Linked DNA regions of Homo sapiens: regions 1, 2, 4 and 5 are each linked to region 3. Evidence: fine-mapped expression QTL. A gene starts in region 3. Each other region holds a variant in brackets. All regions are shown on one strand. Distances are between the middles of the regions.

What was found. PIP is the estimated chance that this variant, and not a neighbour inherited with it, causes the effect. A credible set is the group of variants that fine-mapping cannot tell apart.
Region 1: its variant is the best candidate, but not a certain one, in a credible set for the expression of KLF13 in whole blood (TOPMed, PIP 0.81).
Region 2: its variant is the best candidate, but not a certain one, in a credible set for the expression of KLF13 in whole blood (INTERVAL, PIP 0.74).
Region 4: its variant is the best candidate, but not a certain one, in a credible set for the expression of KLF13 in whole blood (TOPMed, PIP 0.66).
Region 5: its variant is the best candidate, but not a certain one, in a credible set for the expression of KLF13 in whole blood (INTERVAL, PIP 0.81).

What each region holds. Positions count from the first base shown.
Region 1 is chr15:31,385,611-31,390,779 of GRCh38, forward strand. It overlaps a transcript of KLF13 not described here. Among named protein-coding and RNA genes, the nearest start is that of KLF13, 61 kb to the left of the region's middle. The variant G/A (reference allele first, on the strand shown) is at 2,203.
Region 2 is chr15:31,370,584-31,375,583 of GRCh38, forward strand. KLF13 (KLF transcription factor 13) reads left to right here. Exons shown (of 2, transcript NM_015995.4): 2 at 1,427-5,000. The coding sequence ends at 1,716. Among named protein-coding and RNA genes, the nearest start is that of KLF13, 46 kb to the left of the region's middle. RefSeq lists an enhancer at 3,247-4,234. The variant C/T (reference allele first, on the strand shown) is at 2,657.
Region 3 is chr15:31,323,962-31,328,961 of GRCh38, forward strand. KLF13 (KLF transcription factor 13) reads left to right here and starts at 2,874. Exons shown (of 2, transcript NM_015995.4): 1 at 2,874-3,828. The coding sequence starts at 3,252. RefSeq lists a promoter at 1,999-3,055 and an enhancer at 2,083-2,596.
Region 4 is chr15:31,358,615-31,363,753 of GRCh38, forward strand. The region is part of intron 1 of KLF13 (KLF transcription factor 13); the gene reads left to right. Among named protein-coding and RNA genes, the nearest start is that of KLF13, 34 kb to the left of the region's middle. The variant T/C (reference allele first, on the strand shown) is at 2,749.
Region 5 is chr15:31,350,569-31,355,726 of GRCh38, forward strand. All of the region lies in intron 1 of KLF13 (KLF transcription factor 13), which reads left to right. Among named protein-coding and RNA genes, the nearest start is that of KLF13, 26 kb to the left of the region's middle. The variant C/A (reference allele first, on the strand shown) is at 2,290.

The DNA of each region.
Region 1 (5,169 bases), 62 kb after region 3:
ACTCTTGTAATTGGAGTGCCATGAACCACTTCCATATAAGATGGCAAATTTAATTGATAAATGTGTGTGTTCTCACTGCTCCACCAACCTGCCTTTCCCTGTCTTTCTCCCTCTCCTCAGGCCTCCCTATTCCCTAAGACACAATATCGAAATTAGGCCAATTAATAACCTTACAATTGCCTCTAAGTGTTCAAGTGAAGGGAAGAGTCACAGGTCTCTCACTTTAAATCAAAAGCTAGAAATAGTTAAGCTAGTGAGGAAGCCATGTGAGGAAGTCTCAAAAGGTGAGGTAGGCTGTGCCAAGTAGTTAGCCACATTGTGAATGCAAAGGAAATGTTCTCGAAGGAACTTAAAAGTGTTAACTCCAGTGAATGCATGAATGATACGAAAGTGAAATGGGCTTATTGCTGATATGGAGAAAGTTTCAGTGGCTTGGATAGAAGATCAAACCAGCCACAACATTCCCTTTAGTCAAAGCCTAATTCAGAGCAAGGTCCCTAACTTTCTTTCAATTCTACAAAGGCTAAGAGAAGCTACAAAGCTAGAAAAGAAAAGTTGGAAGCTAGCAGAGGTTTATTCATGAGGTTTAAAGAAAGAAAGTATTAGGCTGGGCGCAGTGGCTCATGCCTGTAATCCTAGCATTTTGGGAGACCAAGGCAGGAGGATCACCTGAGGTCAGGAGTTTGAGACCAGCCTAGCTAACACGGTGAAACCCTGTTTCTACTAAAAGTACAAAAAATTAGCTGGGCGTGGTGGCGTGCACCTGTAATCCTAGCTACTTGAAAGGCTGAAGCAGGAGAATCACTTGAATCTGGGAGGCGGAGGTTGCAGTGAGCCGAGATCGTGCCATTGCACTCCACCTTGGGCAACAAGAATGAAACTCCATCTTAAAAAAAAAGAAAAGAAAAAAGAAAGAAGGCATCTCCACAACATAAAAGTGCAAGATGAAGCAGCAAGTGCTGCTATAGAAGCTGCAGCAAGTTATCCAGAAGATCTAGCCAAGATCATTGATGAAGGTGGCTTTACTACACAACAGATTTTCAATGTAAATGAAACTGACTCTATTTGAGGAAGATCCCATCTAGGACTTTCAAAGCTAGAGATAAGTCAATGGCTGGCTTTAAAGGACAGGCTGGCTCTCTTGTTAAAGGCTAACACAGTTGATGACTTTAAGTTAAAGCCAGTGCTAATTTACCATTCGGAAAATCCTGGGACCATTAAAAATACACTAAATCTACTCTGCCTATGCTCTAGAAATGGAAGAACAAAGCCTGGATGACAGCACGTCTATTTACAGCATGGTTTACTGAATATTTTTAAGCCCACTTTGAGATCTACTGCTCAGGAAAAAAGACTCCTTTCCGATGAAACTTGAATGAATGAGGAGTTGCTTCTTATGGATGAGCAAAAACAGTGGTTTCTTGAGATGGAATCTACTCCTTGTGAAGATGCTGTGAACATTGTTGAAATGACAGCAAAGGATTTAGAATATTCCATAAACTTAGTTGATAAAGCAGTGCCAGGGTTTGAGAGGACCGACTCCAATTTTGGAGGAAGTTTTACCGTGGGTAAAATGCTATCAGCATTGCACACTACAGAGAAGTCCATCACTAAAAGACTAGTCAATTGGGTGTGGCAAACTTCATTGTTGTCTTATTTGAAGAAATTGCCACAGCCACCCAAACCTCAGCAACCACCACCCTGATCAGTCTGCAACCATCAACATTGAATCAAGACCTTCCAGCAGGAAAAAGACCAAAACTTGCTGAAGGCTTAGATGATTGTTAGCATTTGTTAGCAAAAAAAGTATTTTTAAATTAAGGTATGTACATTATTTTTATAGACAGAATGCTATTGCACACTTAATAGGCTACAGTATAGTTTAAACATAACTTTTATATGCACTGGGAAACCAAAAAATGTGTGTGACTCACTTTATTGTGATATTTGCTTTATTGCAGTGGTCTGGAACCAAACCCACAATATCTTTGAGGTCTGCCTGTACGAGAACTGGGTGGTGGGAAAAGTGGGGCTTGTTTTTCCTTTCTTTGTATTCACTGTAGGTGTGAAATGTTTGACAATTTGACAGTCTGTGACATGGTTCACAGATGTGGTTCCTGCATGTTATCAGGGCTTGGCCAGGTTCAGGCAGGCCTGCAGGCTGTCCCTACAACGGGCAGATTGAAGTGTGCACAGATGTCC[G/A]TGACAGGGCTGTGACCAGCCTGTGATCAGGCTGTGACCAGGTTGCTGCCTGGACCAGGCAGAGCTTTGTCCCATAATAGGGGTGCTGCCAGGGAGTCTGGCACCTGGAGCACAGCCACTGGCTTGGACATGAGCCATCAAACAGCATGGAATAAAAATAGAACTGCTTCAGCCGGAGAGGAGACAGGCTGAGCTCCTTGCTGGGAGGCCTTTAAAACAAGAACAGGTTTCATTGATCTGAGACTAGGTAAGGATGCTGCCACGAGTCAGGAAGGAGTCGAAGTCATCTGTCCTGGTACCTGGAAGTGCCTGAACATGATGGGCCTGGGTGGTTATTATTCTTCTCATCAGCTGGCACTGTAACTTTAGGTAAGCATTAGAAACTGTTTGTTTGTTTGATTGTTTGTTTGTTTTCCCTTCATGTCTAGGGTATAGAATGCATGCTCTGTGTACAGTTGGTGACAGTTGTAAAACTGAGAAAGTGCCAGTGAAAATGATTTTAAAAATGAAACAGAAAGGCTGGGTGTGGTGGCTCACGCCTGTAATCCCAGCACTTTGGGAGGCTGAGGAGGGCAGATCACCTGAGGTCAGGAGTTCAAGACCAGCCTGACCAACATGGAGAAACCCTGTCTCTCCATGTAAAAATACAAAATTAGCCGGGTGCGGTGGTGCGTGCCTATAATCCCTCTCAGCTACTCAGGAGGCTGAGGCAGGAGAATCGCTTGAACCCAGGAGGTGGAGGTTGCGGTGAGCCAAGATTTCAGCCTGAGTGACAAGAGCGAAACTCTGTCTCAAAAAAAAAAAAAAAAAGAAAAAGAAAACCAGTAAAATATGTTTATTTTATGGAGTATTGAGTCATGATGTTCAAGGACTTTGGAAGTAATTTGATTGTTGGTTTTATTTTTAAAATTCAGGAATTCTAATCATACATACGAACAAGGTTAAAAAATCCCAAAAAAAAAAAAAAAAAAAAACTAATGATAAGAATGTCTCTTTACCCATTCCCCCCACACACACCAGTTCTACCACCTTGGGATTAAACTTTTTTTTTTTTTTTAGGGGACTAAACTTTTTATCGCTTCTGTTTTTAATTTGTTTTTGTCGTTATTCCCTTCAGTGTTAATAAAATACTTGTCCTCCTACTTTGTGATTTATGAGTATTTGACAAAATACACTGGCTTCCTAATATGAAAGATGAATACCGTTGACCATTGAACAACATGGGTTTGAACTGCGTGGGTCCACTTCCATGTAAATTTTCTCTTGCCTCTGCCACCCCTGAGACAGCAAGATCAGCTTCTCCTCTTTCTTCTCCTCCTCAGCCTACTCAACATGAAGACAATGAGAATGAACGAACACCTTTATAATGATCCACTTCTACTTAATGAATACTAAATATATTCTTTCTTATAATTATTTTCTTAATAACATTTTCTTTTCTCTAGCTTACCATATTGTAAGAATGCAGAATATATCTCACATACAAAAGATGTGTTAATTATCTGTTCATGTGATCAGCAAGGCTTCTTCTCGTCAACAGGCTATCAGTAGTTAAATTTTTGAGGAGTCAAAAGTTTTATGTGGATTCTTGACTCAATGGGGGAGGGGATCAACGGTCCCAACCCCTATGTTGTTCAAGCATCAACTGTAATTACCTCCAGTCCCCTCTACCCTCTGCACCTTCTCCCTCCTCCCCCTGTGTTTACATTAGAGGAGTGTTTTAACTCTTCTGCAGATTCTCTCTGAAACTTTACATTAGCTCTTACTCCCCTATATTTACTACCATACCTTTGGTCTGCATCTTGACTCCCCTTCATGGAAGGTGGGAGTAGGATGGCCTCTGCTATCCACTCTCTCTAGGTCCCACAACACCATCCTCCTCAGCCTTTACTTTTGCAGCTTAGTCTATAGTAAAAGTGGAGCCCAGTGGATTCGAACTGCAACAGTGGGAGCCTCTACACCCCTAGGCAGTTGGGCATGTCACTGTTACATGTTACTCACTGCACAGCTAACCGCTGGGCCAGGGGCACATTTCTTTCTCTATGGGCCTAAAGTCATCAACACCACCACCACCGTCTCCAACCACACAAGGAAGATATTCTTAGCATCCAGAGCAAATGGGGCGAACTCATTTTGCCTTCCCTCAGGAACTGAAAATCCTATCCTATGTTAGTTTGCTTTACAGTGGAAGTTGAATTTTGTTATATACATTTTCCCTATAGCTTTTATTTGCCTTGCTTCCTTTTTATTAACAGAATAATATTAATAACAGAATAATAATGTGCCTTTGATGTGGCCTCAGTTTTGCCACCCTTTTATTCTCAAGACCTCCCCTGCCCTCTCCTACCCCATGGATCCGCACCCCCACTCCTTGTCCCTGAGTGGGAGCACAGCCCCGGACTCCCTTTACCACCCTCTGGTGGATCACTCAAGAGTCAATCCCAGGTCTTTCTCTTAGCTTTCTTTCTCACTTTGCTGGAATACATCCTCAAGTAACTATCCAAGAAAGGATGCATGGGACGATGGGTTTCTGCTTTTTTGAGTCCTTGGAGGTCTAACAGTATCTTTTTTCTACCCCATGCTTGATTCATAATTTGGCCTAGTATAGAAAACAAGGTTCAAAATTACTTGCCAATCATCTTCTTACAACCATTGCTACTGATGGGGATCTGATGCACTGCAGTTCTCAGCCTTTGCCGTGAACATTTTATTTTTACCATCTTCGAAATCTGTCAACCAATCTTACTCCCTGTTGCTCTGCACTTTTGTTCAGATATTTTTAGAGGCAGGTCATTTTTTCCTTGATCCTGCATTCCACGGAGCACTCCATCTGCAGACCCATGTCTCCTTAGGTCTGTTCCTTAGGTCTGCAACGCTTTCCTCTAATCTTGTATTGTTAATTGCCCTCCCTCTACATTCTTTTCTTTTGGAATTCCTATTAGTTGAAGGTGGATTTACTGAATCAGG
Region 2 (5,000 bases), 47 kb after region 3:
AATTTTTGTATTTTTAGTAGAGACGGGGTTTCACCATGTTGGCCAGGCTGGTCTCAAACCCCTGATCTCAAGTGATCCACCCGCCTCAGCCTCCCAAAGTGCTGAGATTATAGGCATGAGCCACCGCGCCTGGCCGTTTTTGCTCTCTGAACTTCTTTGTATGGTATCCTCTTTGCTTTTGCATCAAATTTCATCTCAAATTCCTCAGAGAATACTAATCAGAAATTTCAAGTTAAAATTTTCTTCTCTTTCCTGGCTTCACTCTTTTCCTCTAGAGTTGGTGGTTGCATTGCGCTTGGCCTTTCTTTTCCATGCTGCTGGTTCTCCCTGGCTGTCTGGCCATCCCTGGGTATCTGCTTGTGTTTAAGGTGGGTGGGTGAGTGGGTTTCCTCTGTTGAACATGGGTAGACCAGCTTCAGTGACTGGCAGTCACTTTAGGGTCTGTATGGGGGTGAGAGGGGATGAGACCGTGTAGGAAGGGCAGCCCTGCGGCCACCCCTAATACAAGAAGGGCTCGTTTCTGGGGTGCCAGAGCCCCCCACCCTGGTTCTTCCTGAGCAGTTGATGTCATTTTTGTGATTCAGAGTTTTGTGTGTTGAGTTTGCCTGGGTAAATGCTGGCCTGTCTCCCGCTCCGAGTGAGGGATGGGAAGGAGGGAGCAGCATCCTGACCGTAGCCAACCTTCATTACCTCCCACCCCACTGTGTTCTGCCTCCTCCCTACCGGCACAGGCCCCTATAATGGGGTGCTCTGGGTTGCTGCCCTTGTCTGTCACCACACTTGGGTCTGCAAGAGGCTGTTTCATTCTCCTGCTCTGCCAGCCGTCCCTGGTTGGTCACTTTGGGACTTTTGTGAGAGAAGGAGCAGCAGACTGGTTGTAGAATTCCAGGCCCCGGAACTCACCTACGCTGACCCTCTCATGTGACAGACTAGACTGAGGAGGGTCAGAATGGGAATTGCCTTCCTGCCCTGCAGGGGTGCAGAGTGTGGCTCCCATGGAGCAGCATGGGCGGCTGGACTCCGGGAGGCCTGTGAAGCCAGGGCATGGGCCTGCAACCCCCAGGCGTTGGAGACCACTGGCCCGGCATGGGTGTGTAGTGCAGCCTGCTTTGTGGTGTACTTAGGGGGTCCACTGCCAGGAGCCTGGGGCCCTGACCTGTACCTACCCATGGGCCCTGCAGCTTCAGCACCTGAAATGCTGTTTTATCCTAGGCCGTGTCCTCTGCCTCCATCCCAGGCGTGGGCGGGAGGGCAGGGGCCCACCTTCATCTCTGCCTTGATGGATTTGTCACAGAAGCTCTTGGAGGTGGGGCATGTGGGAGGGGTGTTGAGAGACCAGGGTGTTGGGTGTTGCGGGCCCTTCCCCAGAGAGGGTGTGAAGGCGGGGCCAGGTGCGGATACTGATGCTCTGCCCCTGTGCCCACAGGTGAGAGGCCCTTCGCCTGCAGCTGGCAGGACTGCAACAAGAAGTTCGCGCGCTCCGACGAGCTGGCGCGGCACTACCGCACACACACGGGCGAGAAGAAGTTCAGCTGCCCCATCTGCGAGAAGCGCTTCATGCGCAGCGACCACCTGACCAAGCACGCGCGCCGCCACGCCAACTTCCACCCGGGAATGCTGCAGCGGCGCGGCGGGGGCTCGCGGACCGGCTCCCTCAGCGACTACAGCCGCTCCGACGCCAGCAGCCCCACCATCAGCCCGGCCAGCTCGCCCTGAGCCCGCCACAGCCATGAGCAGCCGCTCCCACCCCCTCGTGAGTCCCTGGCCTTTCCTTTTGTAATAAGAAAGAAGAGAGAGAACTTGATGCAAAGTCCACGAAAAAACAATTTTTTTCACCTCAGGTGTCAAAGTAAATTTGTTAAAAAAACAAAAAAAACACAAAAATTTCAAAAAACACCACCCACCAAATTGCACAATAGATACACCCACAAAGTTGAGATTCAGCGTTGTTGAACCCCCTTTCTCAGGGATGGACACGTTTCACGAGGTCAGTGAGGACACCCCTTCCTGCCGCCTTACTCTGTACATAGATTTGCACTCTGGAGTTTTCTGTTAGGTTCGGGAACACGCTGGGGACAGAGCAGGCCAGCCAGTCTGGTGGAGCTCAGCGTCTGGCTGGCTGGCCAGCCTGTGGGTCTGTTGGGAGCAGATGTGCTCACTGACGTTTGTGCCTCCAGGGCAGATTCCTAAGCAGCTGGCCTGACCTCTTCCTGCCCAGCCCCCAACCCAGTCTCTGGCCTCTGCCCAACGAGCCTGGCTGGGCTTGCAACGCAGCTGATTCTGAGACAGGCCCCTGCAGAGGGATGCCTTAAAGCTGTCCCTGGCTGGAGGAGCACTCCACCTTGGGGATAGTGGAGGGGGCCTTCAGCCCTCTGCACCCTGCCTGCCTCACACCCCGCCTTCAGGAGCCCTCTCCTACGGCGCTAGGGAGCACTGGAAGCAGAGATGCCAGCCCTGGCTGAGCGTAGCACTGCACCGTCCGACCTCCGAGGCAGGGGCCGGGGTCACACCTGCCAGGACTCCGCTTCTCCGTGTCCCAGCAGAAGGCATGCAGGACCCTGTCACTACTATACCTGGGCCTCTGATGGGGAATTCTGGTCTTCTAAAAAGATGTTAGAAATTCCTGGTGGCACATCCAGTTCCGAGTTTGCCCGCA[C/T]GGGCACTTTTGTTGGAAACAGTGGGCAGGTCATGGGGCCTCCTCATCAGAGGGTCTGTGTGAGCGGCTGTGCATGTGGCAGCGCACCATGCTTCACAGAGACCATTCTGTAGCAAGAGACCGGAACATTGTGACTTGGACCTTTTCAGGAGTGGCGCGGATGTTACAGGAAATGCTGTCGGAGAGCGCGCATTCTATTTCCTCCGCAGGGAATGCCAGATAGAAAGTTGCGGGCAACACTTTTCTCAGACCCACCATGTCCCCAACTCAGACTTAGCAAACCTCCAGCCTCTCCGTTTCCCCTGGACTCCTCCTCCCTTTTCCTCCTGCTTCTCCTTGTCCTGCCTGGAGGCTCCAGGCCACACCCAGCTGGTGGGGCTGCTCCAGTGCCCCATCACCGGCCTTCTCCTGGCAGGAGAGGAGGAGCAGAGAGCTGGGTCCTGGGCTGGGATTCGAGCCCTGGGCGGGGGTCAGTCAAGCCGTGGTCCAGCAAACTCCTCTGCAGATGGCTGGAGTGTTGACCCAGGCTTGTGGCCCAGGTATCACCTTCCCTTCCTCCTGAGAGTTGAGGCCTGTAAATACAAGGGCCCAGGACAGAGTGTGTGCGTGCGTGTGGGTGTGTGCGCGCGTGAGCACACACGCGTGTGTTGGGGGGGGTGGGGGGATTGGGGTGGACTCAGGGTATCTTGCCAGAGATACCTGTTTTGATGAGTACCTATTTTGATGCAAAGGAACGGCCCTGGGACCTCAGAGGGCCACAGATGGGCTTCCTGGGCCTAGCGTGCCTTGGTTGTGGCCATCCTGCTTCTACTCAGCCCTGCCATGCTATGGGGTGCAGCACAAACCCAGGACCCAGGCCTAGCCACTGCCCACAGCTGATGGTCACTGTTTTGGCTGGCTCCAGAGTGGACAGGTACGCTCTGTCCACAGCAGCTGCTCAGGCACAGTATGCCGTCAGGTGCCCGCTTCTTACCACTGTGTGTCAGCTGGGATTGGCCGACAGCGTGGTGGTGACTTCTAGGTAGACCGATGGACCCTAAATTGGGCAGTGGCATTGTTTCTGCTGTGGTGGGAACTGGCAGGGAGAGGGTCACCTCCACTCTGGTTGGATGCGGAGCTGGTCCCTCTGGCTGCCATGCTGTGTTGGGGCTCTCTGACCTCCCTGCTTGCATTGGGTCTGGGAGAGAGAGTGGAATATTTGGTAGGGACCTTGACAGAAGAGAGCCCTGGGTGCTTGTGGTGCAAAGATCTTCATGCCCAGTTCCAAAGTGAGGTCCCTCCCAAAGTTGTTTTCGTGTGAGGCAGAGAAAGCCACACTCTGAATACATTTTATGTCTCAGGAATTCACATTCCAGGTTCAGGAATTTTATTCCAAAGTCCTTTGGTGCACTCACCGTCCACCGTTCCCCAAGGCAGGGAGAGGGAGTGGCCCGTCCCTGGGAGGCTGGCAAAGTGCTCTCCAGGGAGGGGTCAGACGTCCTTGTGATCTGCCCAGGGTGTCACGGAAGGAGATTTTCTAGCTCCACATCTGTCTGCACATAGGAAGGAAAAGATAGGACTCTAAACCTAGTCATCTTGGAATAAAAAGAAGAGCTGGTTTGTTTTAGAGCAGGGCGGGGGGTGGGGGAGGGAAGCGGGTGTTGGCTGTTTCCAAAGAGAGCACTTAATTTAATTTTTCCTTTAAATGACCCAGGGCTGTTCCGTCTGATAGATGGAAGGGTAACATTGCCTTAAAACAGAAATATGCAGGCGTTGGCTATTTTTGGCATAAGAGCGTGTCTTCATTCCCAAAGTGGTTCTCGTTTAATGGCAGGGTGCGGTCCTTAGGCCCCGGCCTGGACTGGGAAATGGGGGTAGGGCACCAGGAGAGAAATCCTCCTGGGTACTCCTGGCCAGACCCTCCTGAATCATCTGCGGCTTAAACTCATCTCGCTTGAAGGGCAGGGAGAAACCCATGAATCTCAGGCACGGTTCACAGGGGTCCTCAAGGGCAGGTTTCCATTTCATCATGAAGTGAGGGACTCCTGTGGAAGAGGGTGGTGGGCCTTGGAACGCTGCCTCCACTGAGGCGGGCACACAAGGCGGACCCTCCTGAAACAGCCTCCATTTTCTTCAAACATGCAGAATGTTTTCCCAGACTGCGTCTATTTCAGGGTCTTCCATTTTTGTGGTTTATGGCCATGCTTGCCAGTTTTGGTGGGGTTGAGGAACCCATAGGACTCATAGAAATAATAGTGAAAACTCAAACCCTTATTTTGGGACTTCAGTTCTCGTGGTCCATAGGGGCAGAGATGTCAAAGTGAAGGTTGCCTGAGTGAAGGGAGAGTTCCCCTATAAAAGGCCT
Region 3 (5,000 bases):
CCTGATCCTATTACCGTACCTCTGTCCTTAATTGTGCCTGGTGTCCACCTACCCAAGACGCTGCCTTTTAGTTTTTTCAGGTCATAAATATCCAGCCTTTCGTCAGAACAAGGAAGGGGCAGTTGTCAGGCTGCATGAAATTGGGGTGCAGATATGGGCATCTGAGTGCTCCTCAAGCTGACGTTCTGCCAATCTTATTTTCACCCCCGTTTACTCTCACATTCAGAGGTACGTAGTGCCACCCATTAGTGAACCTTCTGGGGGATTCCATGGAGTATGTTCTTAGCTTTCCTTCCTAGCTACTATCTCAGGGTTTCATTTTCTTGGATCTGCTAAGTATTTTAGCTTCAAGAACTGCGTTGCTGTTACTTCCTCTCTTGTTCTCCCTGTCTTTGTGGATTTCTGCCTTCTAACAAATGCTCCAGAAGGAAGTTAAAGTCAATACATACTAACCATCCACCAACTTTACCCAGAAACTCAACCACCCTTTCAGCCTTCAGTCTCTATACGCCCCAGACACACCTGCTCTGCTTTTCTGTTGCTTCCATTTGAAACGAGACGACCCAGCCCTCACATATACATATGCCATCTCTGTCAAAATCTTACTTAGAAAAGAAAACATGGACTCTTAGCTAAGAGGAGATTTTCTTTGGGGAAGAGCTGTCTGTCCGGAAGACCCTTCCATGTAGGTTTGGGATAAAGTCAGTGAACACCACGACAATCATCAAATGAGTGGATTTTTGAGAAACCAGCCAAGGAGCTCAGTTTTCTATACAGAATGCCACAGAGCACAGTCAAAATTCTTTGGGACCCACATTCTTGGAAAACTCTTAGGGGGGTGCATCAATGCAGAGGACCCTTGACCACGTAGGGCATCCCCTCACCCAAGGCAGGCCTGTTTTGTTCATGGCTGTAGTAGCCTAATACTAGAATAGTGCAGACTCTAGACGGCCTACCATTGTGTATGCCGGCTGGGGTGACCCAGTGGGGAGACGTGGCACCTTGAAGATTGGGGAGAATTCTGCTGGCTGGAAAGGGGCCAGGAGGGTATGGGTGGCTGATAAGCTGGTGTAGGACCACTCCTTCCTTAAGAAGTGACTAATTGTGACATGTGGTGGGAATAGAGGAACATTCCGAATCATTACTTGGTCAGGACACACGTCTCTTATTAAATGTCATCAACACAATCTGCCTGGAAGAAACACGATTACTTTCTACCAAGCACAGACCCTCCTAAAGGGACCAGACCCAGTCCAGCACCTTTAGTCTCCCCAGAGGGTAGCAACTCAATCAGCGAGACCGCATTTCAGGGTTTTAGTTACAGATACTGAGGGTGCTCAAACATCCATGCAGTTTGCTGTTCACCGTAACACGCAACCCAGAATGGCCGTTTCGGTCCCTCGTCGGTTACCTGAAAACCAGTCTTACTGAGCTCCAACCCCAAATTAATTTGGTGAGAACTCGAACTCGGCTATTAACCTTAATTCTGAGAGAAGAATGACACCCCCCTCCCACTGCGAGGGTCCACTGAGGGTGAGTGCCCGGGCTCCTTCATTCTCCAGGCTCCTCTCAGAACACAGCAAGGGTGGCTGACTCCTTCGAACGTCCATTAAGCACAATGCAACGGGGCGAGGCAGTAGGGGGTTTGCTGAGCCCGGTTCCGCGGCGGTGGGAAGTTATTCACCGGCGTCTCCGAGGACGGCCCAGGCCTGGAGAATGGCTGGGGCCGCGGGCTGGGGTAGGGGTTACCGTGAGAGTCAAGGGCAAGGTGGCCCAGCCCGGGCTGGGAGGCGCGGGCTGGGCGCAGCCGAGCATTTCCTCCGGGAGGCCCAGACAGCGGGCGGGTGGGGCGCGGTGGGCGGGGTCCTCGCAGCTGGTGGCGTTTGAAGCCCCCCCGACCGCGGTGGGAGAGGGGCAGCCTAGAAGAGTTGGCAGCGGGCCTGCGGCGGGATGGGGAGGAAGGGGCCCCGCGTTCCCTCAGCAGCGGCGCCGGCCGCCCTGGCACGTAGTTCGCTTCTGGAGGCACAGGCCGCGGTGGGCGCGCCACCCGGGCTGCCAGGCTCACCGCCAGCCGAGGCCAGTCCTGCTCGGGCTGACCCGAGCTGAAGGGCAGCGCGGCCGCACCCCGGACCCCAGGAACGAGCCCGAGTCTGTCCCTCCCGCGGGAGCTGCCCCGCCCGGACTCCCGGAGCTCTGCAAGGCAGGGGCGTGGGGAGGGCGAGCGGCCTGAGGCTCTAGGCGCGGCCACCCGGCAAGCCGGCGGCGGAGGGCGCGGCGCGAGTGCGTTCCGCCCCTAGGCAGCCCCGCGCCCGGCCGGGCAGACACGCCTCCCCGCCGGCGCCCATCGCGGGAGGAACAAATGGCGCCCTCCAGAAACCGCTCCCCTCCATGCCGGGGGCCAAGGCTGTCACCACATAAAAGCTCCGGCAGAGAAGTGCTCGCTGTGTCCCCGCCGCGGGGGGTACAAGCAGCCGCTCCGCGCCGCGACTACCCGGCCCGCCGCCCCCGGACGTCATGCGTCAGCGCGCCCCGCTCCAGTTTCCGCCCCTCCTCCCACCGGCCCAGGGGACACGCCCACTGGCGCGCGCAGGGCCCGGGACCGGGCACGCCCCTCTAACGGCTCGGATTGGCCTGGCCGTGCACTCACGGACCAATGGCGTCTGTCCCGGCCCTCGGTCACGCCCCCTTGCCCAGGCGCGGGCACGCGACCGCTCCGTTCCGCCGGTGCGCGCTCTGGGGTCCCCGCCCCCTCCGCGCGCGCAGCTCCCCGCAGCCGCCGCCGCCTGTAACCTGCGCCGCCAGGATGTGGCTGGGGGCTGACGTCGGGTCCAGATGTGGCCCCGGCCCCGCCCACCCCCGGGGCCGGGCCGCCCACACGGAGCCGCGGCGCGCACGGCAGCTGTCCCGCCTGCCACAATGCGCGGCGAAGCTGCGGCCGCGACTTGGCGAGGTGGTCCCTAACGTTGCCGCTCGGCATCCTTAGAACCGGCCGCCCCTGACGCCGCGCGGGGACCCCAGTCGCCCGCGCGCCCCATGCGCTCACTCTTCGGTGCCCGGCCGGGCCGGCGCCTCGCAGACGCGGAGCCGCGCGGGTGACGGCACAGGCGGCTGCGCGCCCAGCCCAGCCCAGCCCAGCCCGAGGAGAGGGCGCGCCGCGCCCCCGCCCCCCGCCCGCTCTCCCGAGGCCGTGGGTGCGGATGCGCGGCTGACGACTCGCAGCAAGAGCACCGCCGCCGGCCCCAGCCCGCAGCATGGCAGCCGCCGCCTATGTGGACCACTTCGCCGCCGAGTGCCTCGTGTCCATGTCGAGCCGCGCGGTCGTGCACGGGCCGCGGGAGGGGCCGGAGTCCCGGCCCGAGGGCGCGGCCGTGGCCGCCACCCCCACGCTGCCCCGCGTCGAGGAGCGCCGCGACGGTAAGGACAGCGCCTCGCTCTTCGTGGTGGCGCGGATCCTAGCGGACCTCAACCAGCAAGCGCCGGCGCCCGCCCCGGCGGAGCGCAGGGAGGGCGCCGCGGCCCGGAAGGCGAGGACCCCCTGCCGCCTGCCGCCGCCCGCCCCCGAGCCCACCTCCCCCGGCGCCGAAGGCGCGGCGGCCGCGCCCCCCAGCCCGGCGTGGAGCGAGCCGGAGCCCGAGGCGGGGCTGGAGCCCGAGCGGGAGCCGGGGCCCGCGGGGAGCGGCGAGCCCGGCCTCAGACAAAGGGTCCGGCGGGGCCGAAGTCGCGCCGACCTCGAGTCCCCGCAGAGGAAGCACAAGTGCCACTACGCGGGCTGCGAGAAAGTTTACGGGAAATCTTCGCACCTCAAGGCGCACCTGAGAACTCACACAGGTCAGTGGGGCGGCGCGGGCGCCCGGATCGCGCGGACGGGGTCGGCGCGAGCTGCCCGACCACGCCCCCGGAGTCCCCGATGGGGCGCGAGGTGGGGGCCGGGCGGGCCGGAACGCCCGGGGCCTCGCCCCTTCCCCTGCCGCTCCGACCCGCGGCTGGCCCCGCGCGTCGCGCGAGGCGGGTCTTGGCTCTCGGAGCCGGCGCCCGCCAGGCGACCGCGCCCCCGCCGGGCACGCCCCCTCCCCGGGCGCGCTCGGGTGGGGCCGCGGGGGCGGATATAGTCATCTGGGCTGGGGGCGGGGACCCCTCCCGGCCGGGAGGCGGCGCGGGCAGGTGCGGGCGGCCTGGGTGTGGACCGCAGGCGGCACTCGTGACGGTGGGGCGCCCGGAGCGGGGGCAGGGGACGCTCTCCGGGGTCCCTCCTCGTTTCCTCCCCCGCTGCCCGGGCGCGCGCTCAGGAGGGGAGGGGCCGGCCCCGGCGCGCGGCGGGCGAAGTTCACGCAGGGACAAGGTTTCCTTCGCCACTCGGCACATTCTTCGCTCTCTTCTTCCTGTAATTTTTCCAGCGCTCTAAGGTTTAATTTGTCGTAACCAAAGTCAGCGGCGGCGCTTGGCGATGCGGGGGGCGGTCCCGGGTCCCGCTCCCCGCCTGCGGCTCTTTGTGGGAGCCCCCGCCCATCCGGCCCGGCGGGGGCGCGCCCGGCCCTAGGCTCCTCGGCCTCGAGGCTCTCTCCGGAAAGGAATGCCCTGGCCGCTGCCCATCCTCCGTGCTGCCCTCTCGCCTGCCCACCTCTCACCTGCCCTGGGCCGGTGCGGGGCGGGCGGCACCTGCACCAGGGCGGGCGCTGAGCCTCCAGCCTGGGGATCACCGCCCGCCCCCGCCAGCCCAGCGGCAACAGTTCCCACGCGCGGCCCGATACTTTGTAGTTGATTCATCTGTGGCGGTTCCCTCCCCCCTTTTTGTTTCGTTTTTAACATAAAGATGAAAATATTTTAATGGACGGCAATCCTTCCCCATTTTGGTGTAAAGAATTGTATGCTTCCTCTGAGCTCACGTGAGTTCTTCTGTGACACTCACCTCTTCTACCTTGGGGGCAGGCTCAAAACCCGTCTACTGAATACTGTTGTCTTGTGACCAAGGGTGGTGGTCTCTCATTTGTAAAATAGTTCAC
Region 4 (5,139 bases), 35 kb after region 3:
AGTTCTTTATGTATTTTAGATACAAATTGCCTTTACTTTTGATCAGCCTCAAATGAAGAGCATTTTTATCAGCTAAATAAACCTGGCTCTGTAATTGTGGATTCCAACCTCATATTCCTGTCTTGCCTTGTGTTTCAGAAAATATCTGAAGAGGTGCATAGGAATGTCACCCCTGGGCTATCACCAGCCATCAGGGCTGTGTTGGTACGCAAGCAGTCACATTGCCTCCCGATGCCCAGAACAAGGATGTTAACCGCACACTGGCTCCTGAAGCCAGGGAACATTCCCTTCAAGATGGCAGAGGAAAGGCGGGGGCAGTGGGGTCAGCTGGACATGCGTCACCCTACCGTGCTCAGGGAAGATGCTTCTGGCTTCCCCTGGGAGGCAGCTAGTGATGAGGGTCTCACAATGGAAAGGAAATGGAAATGTCTGTTCTTTGGGTTCAGCTCTCATGAGTCCACAGGTAGCACCGTTCATCTGGAGAAGGCCTTCACTTGCACAATCCATGATCTGGAAGCTTCTGTGGCAAGGGGCCGATATACGTCTCCCTACTTATCCATTGAGGAGCAATAAGGGTTGTGACTCGGGTGTGCGTGAAGGAGAGAAGCTCCAGAGCCCTTGTCTCAGGTGGCTTCTGGCCTTCTGTTGGCAGAAACCATTGGTATTCTATTATTTCTGTTTTTAAAAGGGACCTTGAGAACGGAAATTTTCAAGTGTGTTTTGTAACCCTTAGCAAAAGGAGAGCAAACACCTTTATGAAATTCTGGCATGTGGTCCTTTTAACCTTTCCAGGCAGTGTACTGGTTCATGCAAACTAGTGCTATTCCCTTCTTAGGGATTGGGGTGCTGGGTTCTGTGGAAGCAGTCCCAGTGGTGAGCTGGAGCTTGGGTGAAAGGTACGTGTGTGTACATACACCACTTTGTTACATAGTGTTATTGCATTAATTCTGACTGTCCAAAGTGATTCATTTGATGAAGGCAGAAATGCAGAAAGGACAGTCACACACAAATCCCATCTTCCTGAGGTAACCTCTGTTTCCTTCCTGCAATTAGAGCTCTGGCATATGCATTTCATGTGTGCATTTGAGGGTGGGGCTCAGCCACTTGGTAGTCTGTTTTCTTCCCTGTCCACGTTCCCAGGGGCTGTTTATCAGCAGCTCACATTGGTGGTTCAGAAGAACATTCGAGAGAGACAGCTGGGCTGGCTCCGTGTGCTTACTCTCCCTCGTCTACCCCATCCAACAGATTGTGAAGCCTGGTTCCAGTAACCTTGGGGATGACACCAAGGAGCGCTGAGCCCTCCACCCCGCATGTTGTGGTCTTGGGGGAGGGAGGCAGGTAGGACACAGAACAGGGTTCCTGCCCCAGTGGCTCCTCCCAGCTCTTGCTAGCCCTCCCTTGGCATCAGGCAGACCTAGGTAGCCTCAGGTCTTGGAGTCCCGTACAGAGCTGTTGCAGAGGGGGTCACTCCAACCTTGAAGCTTCTGGGGGCCTGGCCGTGGGATAGTGCAGAGTGTGGCACTGCTTTTCTTCCCGGCTGGTGTCCCTGGGGTCAGCTGCCTTAAGGTTAGGGCCCTGTTCTAGGTTAGGACAGGGAAGGGCTTAGGAAACAGGGCCAGCAGGATACAGGGAGGAAGGTGTGGGCACGGACATGCAGCGGGCAGGCCTGTGCCGGGAAGAGGGTGGGCTTTGTCTCCTGAGAAGAGGTGGCCCCCCAGAGCACTGGTCTCCCCACATGGCAGGCAGTGGGGCTCTGTTTCAGGCCCTCTCCAACGCACTTAGGCTGCGACAAGCCTGAGCAGGATGTAGGGGGCTACTAGACCTGCGGGCAGGGCTGAGGGACAGGGCCCGGGGCTGCCAGGTCACCTGTTCTCTGCAAGAGGGTTTTTGAACACAAGGGCTTTCCCAAAGGGTAGGGGTAACTTGCTCCTAGTGGGCAAGACCGAGAGCCCCTGGTGGCTCCATGGGCCTGGGCTGCTGCAGGAGAGGTCTGGGGGCTTTCTAGCTCCTCCCTGGGGGTCTGGAGGTTCCTAGCAGAAGCCCCGGCACTGTTCACCTGTTTCAGAAAAAACAGACCGTTGTCTAATTTGTTGTTGTTGTTGTTTTGTCTCGGCTCCCTCAAAAACCAAAGGCGTTTTTTAGGCCCGTCGTCCAAATTACAAGCTCATTTTAATTCGGATGTATTTACTTTGTGAAACCAACCCTGAAGAATACATTGTTTCGTTATATTCTGCTGGAAACCTTGCCACATTTTTCCTGAGAAAACTGAGCCTGCTGTGCACCTGGAGCCGGCCAGGTGGCAGGTGCTGGGCCTGGAAGAGGAGCCTGCCGAGGCTCCTCCAGGGCTTCTGAGTGCCATTGTTTTGAGTGCGCTGCCTGGTAGCGCTGGGCCCTTCCAGGGAACTGCCTGGCTCCTTCCTCAGCTGCAGCCTCCTGCTGCAGGGGAGCTGGGGACCGTGGAGGTCCCCCACAGGTCCTCAGGCCCACATGCCCCCAGCCTGGGCAAGCCTGCCGTGAAATAGGCCTCGTAGAGCCTGGCTGTGGGGGCAGCAGGGGCCCCTGGGTGCAGAGGGTAGCCTCGCCGCACTGTGGGTGGGTGCCCCTGCTTGCTCCTCCTGGAACGTGAACGTGGGCAGCAGTGTTCCTGTTCCATGCTGGGGAGGGGCTGTGAGAATGTCTTTCTTCCCGGTGTAGCCTAGCCTCAGGCCCACCCTTCTGGGTGTGTTACCTTGGTGAGGTCACTTGGTT[T/C]CTCACCTCTGACAAGGGTTTCACATCAACACTTTCCTGTCTTCCGGGTTGGTAGAGTCAGATGAGCCCAGTGCAGGCCAAAAGTAAAAGCTGCACCCCTGTAAAGAGTGTACATGCAGCTGTTTGTGCCATTGAGTGTCTGTAGCAGAGCTTAGCAGGGTGGGGTCCCTGCAGGCAAGGTCCCCCCCAGGAGACACAGAAGGAGAGGGCAGGGGGAGGAAATGAAGGCTGGGGGAGGGGAGACACAGGAAGAGGAAGTGGGCCACGATGGTTGCCAAAGGCTCTGCAGACAGGGGCCCCTCCCTCAGTTGCCTAGAGAGCCGGCTGGGAGCACGGGCACCTGGGGTGCAGAGCTGGGGCTGGCTGTGCAGGTGCTTGTTCGTGTCAAGAAGCAGTTGGACTTCTCTGTGAGATTCTGCAGATCTCCCCTGTGACTGTCAAGGCTGGTGCCCCCCACCCCCCACCCCAGACGTCACAGCCAGAGGCAGGCCCAAGAGGCCTTTCCATACTGTGTCCCTTTCCCTACCCACCACGTGCTCTGCCCTCTTTCTTCCCTCCCTCCCTCCTTCCTTTTCTCTTGGTGCAAGAGAAAACCCTTTCCCAGTAGTCCACAGATTCCCTGGTTCCTACTCCTCATGAGCCCCTACAGTGGCACTTGGGATCTGCATCCTAGTGGCTGGATGGACTTGGCTCTCCTAGCTGCCATCCACCTGGGCTAATTTTCAGCCCACAGTGGTGTCACAAAGTGGTCTTATGGCAGGAGTGTGGTATTCAGGAGCCTGAAGGGGGCTTCTGACGTGGAATTACAACTCTGGAACTGCTTCTGTTTAAATCCTTTGCTGAATATTTGTCACCCATAGCCTTTTAGGTCTGACCCGTTCTAAACTGCTGGGCCTATCAAACAATTTATCAGGGAGGGCCCTTCTCCAATAGGACAGTTTGCAGCGTGACCCAGGGGCTCTAAAGCCCTGGAGCCCTGCCCTGGGAACATCTCCTACAAAGCTAGATTGGACTTTATTGCTATTTTTGAGTTTCTCATCCTGGAAGCCACTGCCCAGCACATTCTGAGGAGAATCTGCCTGGGCGACCATTGTTATTTTAAGAGAGCTCTTGGGGTAATATGAGGAACTGTGCTTTGAAATAGGGAATACAGAATGGGGCCAGTAATGTGCCCAGAGTGTTGAATGTCTGATTTTTAAATTGGCATTATTGATGGCTAGCATTTTCTAGTTTGCTATGGATTTTTTGTTTTGAATTTAACTTTTTGAATAGGAAATGCATTTGTGTGTTTTAGAATCTAAAAGATTTAAGTAGTTTCCCCAGGGAAAATTCTGTCAACCTTCCCTGTTCTCCATCTGCTCAGTGTTCCCCTGGGTGATCTCTGTTCCTACTTTCCTAGGGACCCTCTCTCTGCACATACAGGCCAAGGCGCACGTAGATCCTTGCTGGTCATCTCTCCTCAACCTTGTTTTCCTCACTCAGCTTGGAGATCTTTCCATATCAGTTTGTAAAGAACTCATTCTACTTCTTTGCGATAGTGTTCTGTTATATGTGCGTTCCATAATTTATTTGACAGGCCCCAGTGGAAGGACATGAGTTGTTTTCAGGTTCCTGCTGCATTGACTAATCAGGAGCATATCCCGTTTTGTAGGTGTGCAAATGCGTTTGTAGGCTAGGATGTCAAAAGTTCAGATGTGGGTAAAAGGGTGTGCACATTTCTAATTTTAATAGGTATTGCCAAATCGCCCTCCATGGAGGTTGTAGCAGTTTGTACTCCCATCAGCAAAGAATGCCTGCTTACCTGCAGCCTCACCAAGGTGATAAGCTACCAAGCTGCATTTCAGTGTGTCTCATCTGCCATTAGCTCCTGATGGATGAGGTGGAGCATCTTTTCATGCATTTGAGAGCCATTTGTAGTTCCTTTTTTATGAATGGGCTTTGCCCATTTTTCTGTTGGATATTTTTCTTTTTAAAATTCCTGTGAGCTCTTTCTGTATTGGAGATTAGCCGTTTGTGATAGGAGCTGCAAATATTTTTTCTCTCAGTTTTGTCAGTTATCTCTTGCCTTTGTTTATGGTGACTTTGTTCATGGAGAAGTATAGTATACTGTTTTGTGCAGTCAAATAGATTGATTGATTGATTGAGACTGAGTCTCACTCTGTCACCCAGGCTGGAGTTCAGTGGTGTGATCTCAGCTCACTGCAACCTCTGCCTCCCACGCTCAAGTGATTCTCCTGTCTCAGCCTCCTGAGTAGCTGGGATTACAGGCGCTCGCCACCACGCCCGGCTGATTTTGTATTTTTAGTAGAGACGGGGTTTCACCATGTTGGCCAGGTTGGTCTTGAACTCCTGACCTCAGGTGATCCTCCTGCCTCAGCCTCCCAAAGTGCT
Region 5 (5,158 bases), 27 kb after region 3:
CTTGGTTCTTTGTACCTGTTCCATCCACTGGGTATTTAGAGAAAGTAGCTTGGCGTGTAAGGTGGTCTCTGGCCCAACTTCACCCCCTTTTTTGGTGAAGTCTGGGACTTGCACAAGCACTGGCTCTTTGGCTCAGCTTTCAGACCTTGAAGGATCCGCAAGGAAGCTTTGGTCTGGGTACAGCCCTTGAGAAGGGCCTTAGAGGTGGCCATGCCAGTGGAGAAGGTGAGGCTAAGCAGGCTCTTGAGGTGCGCCCATGGCCAGGCCAGAATGCAGGCCTGGCACTCTTCGCCCAGGCGCCTTCTGGGCAGCAGCAGTTTTGAGTAAGTAAGGAGCCTAATGTTTAATGGCCTTTGTGTAAGAACATGATGATGACAGCGAGAGCAGGGAGGCTGGGAGGGAGTGTGTGGATGGACATCCGAGTAAGAGTTCCCCAGTGTCTCCAGGAACCACTTGCTTTGTAAAATGACCCAAATCCACCATCCCTGGACCTGGCGCAGATTCTGAGTTGGGCCAAGGCCTGGGAAACCTGAGTTGGAAAGTCTTTTCTCAGCCCGTATCATGGACTTGCTTTTGGTGCTCTGGGCTGGGGTCAGATTTGTAAGTGTGTTCCTGTTGTAAGAAGTTGCCTTGCCAAAAGATCATCATTTGAGTGCCTGGCATTTGTTTTTATTTCTATTTGTGAAAGTCAAGCATGTTAATTAAGGATGATTTGAGAAACAGGAAAGTATCAAGGAAAATTAATGAAGAGGAAAATCAATAACTTTAATCCCACCACTCACAAGTCACCACTGTTAAAACGTGGGATCATTCCATACAAGTCATTTTCTGTTCTACATTTTCCTGCTTTAACATCCTGTTAGGCTCATAACCCCAAGGCACTGACTGGTTTCTAACCTGGTCTGAGTGGTTGCCCCGTGTGCGCTTGTCTTGCACTGAGAGCTCCAGTGATTGGCTGTCCTGGGACAGCCGTCCACCTCATTATTTTCAGGGGGAGTTCCCAGGAGCCTGCAAAGGAATGTGCATTTTCAGGGCAGGTTGCTTCTTTTCAGAAAGGAAGGATGAGTGTGCTACCCGCAAGCAAGGCATGAGAGCGCCCAGGTATGCACCCTGGCAGGGAGAGTGGGCGGGTGGCTGTTGGATGTCTAAAAGGGTTTTGCACACCGGGCGCGGTGGCTCATGCCTATAATCCCAGCACTTTGGGAGGCTGAGGTGGGCAGATCTTGAGGTCAGGAGTTCAAGACTACTGGCCTGGCCAACATGGTGAAACACTGTCTCTACTAAAAATACAAAAATTAGCTGGGTGTGGTGGCGGACGCCTGTAATCCCAGCTACTGAGGAGGCTGAGGCAGAGAATTGCTTGAACCCAGGAGGTGGAGGTTGCAGTGAGCTGAGATCACGCCACTGCACTCCAGCCTGAGCAACAGAGTGAGACTCCGTGTCAAAAAAAAAAAAGGGAGGCGGGGGGAGTTTTGCAGTGAACAGAAGTCACTGTTTAAGTAGAGTTTACACACAACAACAAAAAAAGGGTTTTGCAGTGAACAAAAGTCACTGTTGGAGTTTACACAACAGAGGGGTCGCCACGCTGCCCCGTACCTGGGAGCTTCAGACTGTTCCGAATAGGCCTCCCCTGGACACTGAGATCTTGGAGGCTTTGTGATCCAGCCTTGGATGCCGGGTCCTGAGATCTTGCAGTCCAGGGAAAGGTGAGATTGTCTCACAGCAGAGGCTTGCCTGCTGCAGGCCACGCTCAGGGGTTTCTACCTCCCTCAGTCCCAGTGTCTGCCCTACAGGCTCCCTTGGTCCCGCTCAGAATGCACAGACCTGACCGTACCAGTGAGAAAGGACAGGCTGTGTGAGCTCTGCCTGGCCCAGGTGTGGGCTGGCCACGGGCTCCATGCCTGCCTTCTCCATGGGCCATGACGTCGGCCAGCAGCCTCAGCAGCTGCTGAGATTAGCGTCTGTATGTGGTGCCACTTGGTGTGCCTCTGGCTCCTGGCCCTGTGCTGGCCCCGTGGAAGGGCCTGTCAGCATGTACTCTCTCCTGGGGACAGGAGCAGTATCTTCAGGGCTGGGTCTACCAACCCGGTCTGTGCATTTCCAGCCTCCTGTGTGCTTCCCAGCTCTGAATTATGACCACTGGGCTGATTTATTTCTTCTGACATTTGCAAGCTGTTAGGTGGCAGAGATCAGTGAATAAAAACTTAATAAAAGGCTGTATTTAATCCCATGCATCCTAGGCTGAGCCAAGTTCCCTTAGGATTGAGCATCACCAGATAGAACCCAGAG[C/A]CCACTGGCATTGGGACCTCCAGGGTGGCTACTTGGAGTTTTTGTGGGGAGGGCAGTTTCTTGACCGTGGAGCATGACGAGGCTGGACCCACCTCCCCGTCTGTATGCAGCCACCATGCAGCCCACCTAGGCTGTGGGCTCTGTTGATGCCGCCTTGGAGTGTGCGGCTTGCTCTGGGTGGGCCTTCCAGGGGAGGAGGGACTGCAGAGGTAGTGACAGGGAAGGGACCCTGGGCCAGGGGGCTGGGCTCAAGGGTGGCTCCACATCTGACTTTGTGGCCTCATTTCCTGGTCTGTCACTTAGGGAGTTTTGCTGGGGCCTGTTAAAGGGGGAGTGCCTGGAGGTATCAAAGCAGGGGCTTGTGGCCCTGGTCATCCAGTAGTTACTGGGGGTGTTTACAGCCGCCTGTGCTGGGCCTCCCCTGGAGAGGAAGTCACGCCCACGTTAAGTGCGTGGGAAACCTGTCCCAGGCGTTCTGTAACCGTAGCTGCAGGTGCTCTGGGTGTTGCCTCCTGGCTGTAGAGGGCCCCCTTGTGAAGAGGGGAGCCCCAGGTTGGGGGGCCTGGGCTGGCAAAGTCCCTGCCATCTGGCCTGCCCACTTGGGGCTGGCTGTGTTGGGCCTGGTCCCACCAGGGCTTGGGCTGCTTCCAGATCTGTTTTCATTTTCAATTCCCTTTATTGCTATAAAACCACTTCGGGGCTGCAGAGAACAAGCTGTTGTCCTCAGCTGACCTCAGATTCCTGGCCTCAATTGTTTGCCTCTTGCTAATTTTAGCTTCTGATCATTTCCACTCTTATCCTCCCCCCAAAGGGAGACACAGACCAAGAATAGCTGCTGGGAAGGGGGGCTGTGGTGGCTGTGGCCAGAGTTCCAACAGTGAGCTGGCAGGGCTGTGGAGTGGCTCGCTGTGGCCAAGCCTGGGGCAGGGGGCTCTCGGCAGGCAACCCCCACACCCTTCCCCTCTCTCACCGAGGACTCTATACTGCAGGCATGGGCCTCAGAGGAGAAGAGGACTTCACTGTTCCTTCTTTTAAACAGAAACCAGGCTGCTTCTGGGGAAAAAGTACACCCCCACAGCCCTGCCTAGCTTGAAGACCCCTGAGAGTCCCTAACTCCCCTGAGCCCTTCAGACTCCAGGACCCAGGTTGTAGTGTGGGGTCAGACGTGGCACTTGACTACAGCCAGGCCCTGGATACAGCGTCAGTGTGGAGGCCTCAGGCCTATCCAATCCCTACCCAGCTTGGCCCCAGAGCCTGGCACAGCTCTGCCCTCCCAGTGAGTGTCAGGCTGCAGTTGACTGACAGCAATGTCCAGTCCAGGACATCAGCCCAGGCCTGCAGGATGGGACTTTGCCTGCCTGGGGCAGGGAGAGAAGCAGCTGACCAAACCCCAAACCGTGGTGTGCTGGTGAGCAGGCCTGGGGAGAGCCAGAGGAGGGATGGGCTGAAATCCAGCGAGGAGGAATGGCCTCCAGGCAGGGCCTAGGGTTGCAATCCTTGTCCATATATTAATAGTTTTGTAATTTTTGTTTTTGTTTTTGAGACAGAGTTACACTCCTGTTGCCCAGGCTGGAGTGCAATGGCGCGATCTCAGCTCACTGCAACCTCTGCCTCCCGCGTTCAAGCAATTCTCCTGCCTCAGCCTCTCAAGTAGCTGGGATTACAGGCACCCACCACCACACCCAGCTAATTTTTTGTATTTTTAGTAGAGATGGGGTTTCACCGAAATGTTGGCCGGGCTGGTCTTGAACTCTTGACTTCAAGTGATCTGCCCACCTTGGCCTCCCAAAGTGCTGGGATTACAGGCGTGAGCCACTGCACCTGGTCATATTAATAGTTTTTAAACTTCTGTTTGGAGAACTTCAGACAGATGCCCACATCTTCAGGACACCCACATTTTCAGCACCTGCTAGCCCCCTGCAGTCTTATCTCTGCCCCTCCCCCACCACCGTCCTCTCCAGTTGTTTTGAAGGAAATCCCAGATGCAATATCAATTTGTCCATAAATATTTCAGTGCCTTACATCTTCAAATGAAAGCCTGATACGTCTAATTTTCATACTGGGCTAACAGTAAGTGTGAAGCAAAAAATCCAAAGCCTGAAGTCACCCCACATGACTTGGTATTGGGAATTGTGTGGATCCAGCCCTAAAACCCCCGGGCTTGGGGTTGGAGCCACCATTTAAAGAAGTGTTGGAGCCCATCTCGCCATCCCTCAGCCTCGAGTTATAACTAGTCATAGGTAAAAAGAAGGCAACCAGGACACAGGTGTTTATGAGATCAAAAGCAACAACAACCGAAACAATCAACAGTGCTACTAAGGTAACACAGATAGGTGAGGAAGAGGCCAGGTGCTCAGTAAGTGTCTCCTGTGGACGGTCCCTCACCTCCCCTGAGCAGAAGGGCAGGGTGTCATCTCCACATGCCTTGGGGAGATGGCAGGGCCAGCACTCTCCAATGGCTTCTGAAGAGGAGCTACTAGGAGAAGAAAGTGATGCTCTAAGGAAAGGCTGGACTGCCGAGAGCAGTATACCCATCCCATTTTGTAAATTATGTTAAAAATTGTGTTAGAGTAGTGCATGTGGTAATACACATAGCTTAAGGATCCTGTCTTTCTGTACGTTCATTGTGATAAGCAGGTCACCCCCACCATCTGCCAGCTTCTTCAGCTACTGCCTTTGGTATTTACCTTTCCCAGCTCGATAACGTGCTCATAGGGGCTCTTCTTGATGGTAGAAGAGTGTTAGGCATTATCTCCTGACTTCCCATGATGGCACATGAGCGCCTGCAGGCACCCTTCTCCCACCCATGTGATAATTGGATATTTAGGATGGAGCCAGCATGCGGTATTTTGGGGGATCATGACAGTAA